Regions from separate parts of the Homo sapiens genome. Here region 1 is linked to region 2. Evidence: fine-mapped expression QTL. A gene starts in region 2. The other region holds a variant in brackets. All regions are shown on one strand. Distances are from middle to middle. Region 1 overlaps SPTBN1 (spectrin beta, non-erythrocytic 1). Region 2 holds the start of SPTBN1-AS2 (SPTBN1 antisense RNA 2).

Evidence for each region. PIP is the estimated chance that this variant, and not a neighbour inherited with it, causes the effect.
Region 1: its variant is fine-mapped to the expression of SPTBN1-AS2 in whole blood (GTEx, PIP above 0.99).

The regions. Positions count from the first base shown.
Region 1 is chr2:54,558,809-54,561,720 of GRCh38, reverse strand. The region is part of intron 2 of SPTBN1 (spectrin beta, non-erythrocytic 1); the gene reads right to left. Among named protein-coding and RNA genes, the nearest start is that of SPTBN1-AS1, 1.6 kb to the right of the region's middle. RefSeq lists an enhancer at 1,308-1,477. The variant G/C (reference allele first, on the strand shown) is at 1,266.
Region 2 is chr2:54,678,527-54,681,438 of GRCh38, reverse strand. SPTBN1-AS2 (SPTBN1 antisense RNA 2) reads left to right here and starts at 1,394. Exons shown (of 3, transcript NR_186176.1): 1 at 1,394-1,615. The region is part of intron 1 of LOC105374653 (a long non-coding RNA gene); the gene reads right to left.

The sequences.
Region 1 (2,912 bases), 120 kb after region 2:
ATAACTATATTTAAACTATAAATTTATAATATCTCTATAAATTTATAAACTATAAATCGCTATAAACCATTTTATCTAAATAGACCAGACTCATTTTAAAATTATATTCTCCTTAGCCAGAACTCCAAATCTCATTCTATGGCACACCTCCTGAAATTTTTAGGACCCAGTGTGGAAAGTAACTTGAAACCAGCCAAAATGCAGAAACAACTCCAGAAAAATCATAGCACTATCAGGCACAGACAATACATAAATAAGTTCATATCAGAGGCATTAAACCCAGTACAGGACTGGCAAGGTAGCTCACATCTGTGATCCCAACACTTTGGGAAGTGAAGGCGGGAGGATCATTTGAGGCCAGGAGTTCAACACCAGCCTGAGCAACATGGTGAGACTCTGTCTCTACAAAAAATTTAAAAATTAGCCAGACATGGTATAGTCCCAGCTACTTGGGAGGCTGAGGTGGGAGGATGGCTTGAGCCAGGACTTCAAGGCTGCTGTTGAGTCGTGATTGTGCCACTGCACTAGAGCCTGGGCAACAGCGTGAGACTCTGTCTCTTAAAACGAAAACAAAAAACCCAATACAGTTTCAGAGGAGCATTTTGCCAATATTCAGAGATTATGTGCTAGGAAAGATTATACTCAGAAGAGTAAAAAAAGGCACCCTTGCAGGAATGTACAAAATTAAATCAGCAGATAGAAATTATATGTTATCAAAAATATGTGATAATCAGAACTACAAATACCAAACAAAACACAAAACCAGGGATGGGAATTAAAGAAAGGTTTTGTGTGTGTGTGTTTAATCAAAATTCTCCTAGGATTGTTTAAAATGCAATCGGTTCATTTGTTCTGAAGGATGCTGACAAATGTGTGTAATTCTCCTGAGGTCCACCATACTTGAAAGTTAATTCACCCTTTCTCAATTCCTCAACATGGGTGGTTTTCTGCTACAGAAATACCAACACTAAACTTGTGCAACTCCTAAACCACAATATTTAAAAATAAGAAAGTCACTGGGGCTAAATTAGGAGACAAGGGTCACACTAAAAAAAATTATTTTTAAAGCTACCACACAAAACACGAAGCTTACCCCTTTCGAAGGGATTTCCTTGAGAAACAGCGTATGAGGTAAAATATCAGGGGCACATGATTTTTTTTAAATTTAAACTTTACGTTGTCCAGAGAGGACAGTTAAGACATTTCCTGTGTGTAGGCTCCACCCTTCTCGGCGAGCAGTTTTAAAACCTTCCTCAGCCCTTTCG[G/C]AATAACAGCCTTTTGTTATGGGTGGGCCTAGGGGTGCACTCCTCCCTCACACCTTCTATTTTCTCCCAGTTTTGCTTTTTTTCTGAGACTTCCAGGCTAGGCTGGCGGTGGAGTGGGCTGACGATCCCGGTGGGTGCTTTCCCCCAGGCGGGATGACACAATGAAGCTGGGAGTCCGGGCCAGGGGAAGAGGAGGAGCACGCAGTGGATTCTCCGACCCGAAAACCGTGAGGCCCCTAACAAACCTAGATAATGAACGCCCCCCCCCACCCCAACTCCTCTATTTACTACTTGCAAGCGCCCCCAGCTTAAGTTTTCAAAAAAGCAAATTTGACTGCCGAAGAGCTCAAGAGAAATGAACCAAAGAGACACAGAACCGTTCCCCAGAGCGAAGGGAGCTTCCTCTGAGCTAACTGCCAGAGGAATGTGGCACAGCCCAGCAAATGTTTAAAATCACGTCCTGTTCTGCCTCGTTTTCCAGAGAAGTGTCATTACTGTCAACTATTTCACAAGACAAATAAACCAATGAATGAAAGACATCCTCCCCCCTCTTCCCAATGAAAAACATTCTAGGGCTGAGCGGCTTCCTTCCTTCCTCCTCCTCACAGGAACCACATTTGCAGCACTGAGGAGGTTAAAATAAGAAACACACAGTCCTCGAATACTACTTTTTTACAGTGCTAGAGCCATTCCCAGCCTACTACTGACTCCAGGGGCTTCCAAACGGAAGGAGTTCTGTTTTCAGTTAGGAACCTTTTTTCATGTATAAGCTCTGAGACACTGCTGGCCAGGGCCTGCTGGCTGGGCAGGGACAGCTGAGGGGTGCAGGGGCCGCAGGGAAAACAGCACACTGGTGCACACACAGGCTTCTGCTCTCCCTAAAAATATGTTCAGTAAAATATTGGACTCATTCAATTGTCTGAGCCTTAAAAAGACTCCAAGAAACCTGTAATTGATCCAACTAATCCAACCCATAGGGTTGAAATGACAATAACCGGCTTTCATTAGAAATTATATAGCCCACTAAATAGATGGGAAGGCTCTTCCCAACACATCAGAAAAATTAAAATTAAGCTTCTGAATAAAAAACTGTAATTTACCAAAGGCTTAGGAACAAAAAGACCCCTCCCTCCTCCCCTTTGCTATTGTTCTACAGGACTGGGTCTGAGCACGGCACTTTACACCTTTAAAGCTTCCCAGAGGTAAGAGGCTGGGGGCTGGGAGCCAGAGGCGACCCGGAATCAAATACCTGCATACTAATAAGTCTATGAGCACTGATCTACTAGGAGGTAAAGTTAGCTAAAAGTAAAGAAAATGTGTGTGCAGCAGTTATCTGACAACCTAGAAAGCCAAAAAGGTGCTGGAGAGACAGGGACTCCAAATGGTAGCTCTTCTGGAGTGGAGTATGAGCAACTGCCTTCCCTAAGTCGTGAATGGGGTGCCCGCAGCCAACCACAGGGTCTGGGGCCGAGCTGTGAAGCCGCCCGTCTTCATTAGGGTCACAAATAAAGCCTCCAAGAACCCCCGTTGGCACCCAGGACAGGCCCGGCCTTTGGGAGGGGGCTTACCTTGCAGCTGCTTGAATCTGCCTTCCAGCTGGTTGTAGTTGTAAGGCACCTGCCCCGTGTACGCCGGCGACAGCGGCCC
Region 2 (2,912 bases):
TAGATGAAGGAGGCAGAGGATGGCAACAGTGATGCAGTGTGAGAAAGACTTGATCACTATTGCTGGCTTTGAATATGGGGAAGGGGTCATGAGCCAAGGAATGTGGGCAGCTTCTAAATGTTGCAAACAGCAAGGAATTGAAATTTCCTCTAGAGCATCCCAAAAGGAAAAGAGCCCTGCCAACACCTTGATTTTAATGCAGTGAGTTTTTGTGTCAGACTTCTTACTTATGGAAGAACTGTAAGATAATAAATTTATGTTGTTTGAAGCCACTAAGTTTGTGGTAATTTGGTATAGCAGCAAAGGGAAATTCACACAGCCAGCTACTTTTTAAACGCTGTTCCTGTGTTTGCAGAATCTGTAACCTCAAGGGGCAGAACCTTCCTTCTGCAGAATATGAGGTCTTTTCCCAGCTGCACTTGCAGCAAGGGCACAGATCCATGGCCAGTATCTGTCAATTGTACACCTGCATGATTTTGAATTAGAGGCTGGTCATGTGCAGAGGGGAGCCTGGCAGAATCTGTTCTGTGAGGGCAGTGGCAGGGACAGCTGTCACTGCAGCAGCGTGTTGCTGTCAAAGACAGCAATTCCCACAGCAGGGTTTGCGCACAGTATGGTGTCATGGTGGGCACCTGGCAGTGTCAGAGTCCAGTGACGAGTTCCAGGAGCCTGCCCTAGGCTGGACTTTGGACATTTTTCCTGGCTGTATAAGCCCTAAGCCTGGTGCCCTTGTCCTCCTGGAGATTCTGGGAGCCTTAATAAGTTCCTTTTCTGCTAAATTAGCCAGAGTTGGTTTTTGTGGCTTGTGATTCAGAACCCTCAGTAAATCAGATATGAATGAACAATTCAATTCACTCAAAAAGAAAGTGGTGACACATCCCTGTAGTCCCAGCTCTCAGGAGGATCGATTGAGCCTGGGAGGTCGAGGCTGCAGTGAGCCGTGATCATGCCACTATACCCCAGGTTGGGTGACAGATAAGACCCCATCTCAACAAAAAGGAAAAAAAAAAGCAAGAAGAAAGAAGAAAAAGAAAGAAAGGAAGGAAGGAAGGAAGAAAGGAAGGAAGGAAAGAAAGAAAGAAAGAAAGAAAGAAAGAAAGAAAGAAAGAAAGAAAGAAAGAAAGAAAGAGAAAAAAGAAAGATGACAAAAACAGGAGAAAAAGTTGACCCTAGCTAGCAGTCAAAGAAACTCACAGCTTGAGGTGCCATATGATAGTTACTAAAAACAAAAACAATTGTTTCTGTAGCACAACAACGAGAACAGTTCCTCAGATAATGTCATTTCATTCAACTTTTTTTTTTTTTTTTTAATGATGAGAAAAAAATTGATTCTCTGCCAGGGCCACTGTCTGTGTGGTTTGCATGCTCTCCCCACGTCCACAGGGGTTTTGCTCTGGATGCTCTGGTTTTCTCCCACCCCTCAAAGAGGTGCATGTTCAGTTCACCGGCATGTCTACATGGTCCTGGTGTGAGTGTGGGGTGTGTGTGAGTGTGCCCTGCGATGTGACAGTGTCCTGTTCAGGGCTGGTTCTTACTTTAAGCCCTGAGCTGCTGGAATGAGCTACAGCAACCGGAGACTGGAGACTCCGGCAACCTAGAGAACTGTTATTATTGAGTAAGTTATCTTACTTGCTTTTATTTATCTTTCTTAAATGTATGTATAGCTCATATTTATTTCAGTGGTTAATATCAGAAGTGTTTTTTTTTTTTGAGACGGAGTCTCACTCTGTTGCCCAGGCTGGAGTGCAGTGGTGCAATCTTGGCTCACTGCAACCTCTGCCTCCCAGGTTCTAGTGTTTCTCCTGCTTCAGCCTCCTGAGTAGCTGGGACTACAGGCATGCGCCACCATGCCCGGCTAATTTTTGTATTTTTAGTAGAGACGGGGTTTCACCATGTTGGTCAGGCTGGTCTTGAACTCCTGACCTTATGATCCACTCGCCTCGGCCTCCCAAAGTGCTGGGATAACAGTCATGAGCCACCGCGCCCGGCCTTTGGTTTTTATTTAGAATTTTGATGTGTTTGTGACTAGAAATAAACCATAGGAATATTAATTTGCTTGTGGTAAAATTGGTGTTACTTACTTTCAGATTGCAAGAACATATTGACAACCTTAAGTGAGGACTGACTGTACCTTTGTTTATAGCTAGTAACTAAATGGATACACTGTTTGGAAAGTAATTTGGAAAGGAGTAATAGGAATATTTAGCAAAAATCTGTAAACGTGTCCTTAGCTTCTGACCTGGCAATTGCCAAGAAGCTTGGGAGGGTGTTTGGTAAGATAAAAATTATTTGTGTGCTTGTGTTTGAAAATTATTGATGTGGGCTTACAGTGTGTTAAACTAGGGGTGATAAAATTTGCATTAGGACCCCAGAAGCTTTTAGAGAGCAAAGAGATTAGAACCTATATTCAGTTTCCTGAAATGTAAAGTGACTGAAGCTGTCAGAGCGGCTGAGATCAAGGCTCTCTCTGAGGCTGGGCAGGAGAATGACTCCCCTGGGAGAACATTTCCACAAGGGGAAAGTGGTTAGTAGATGCGTACCCTGCACCAAGGCACGTGATTAAAGGGGAATATGGTCTGTGCAGTAGCCATACCAGGGGGCAGTTTATGCCCCCAGAAAACTGCTCTCAAAAAGAACCAAGAGCTGTAATTTTGGGAACACAAGCCTCTTTGGTGGAGAATGGTGTTATTGCTAAATGCTCAGCATCTGGGGAGCATTTTAATGCCTGATGCTGCATCAACTTGTGGAAAACTACCAATAGTCCTTGAAATAAGCATCACAAAGTCTTGTAGAAACACAGCAAAATGTTTATGATGCATATGTAAGTAAAAATTGTATGCAGAATAGGTACTTGTGATGTTTAACTATGTAGGATTTGAGGCATGTGGGCCAGTGGGTTGTTAGAGTTAAAA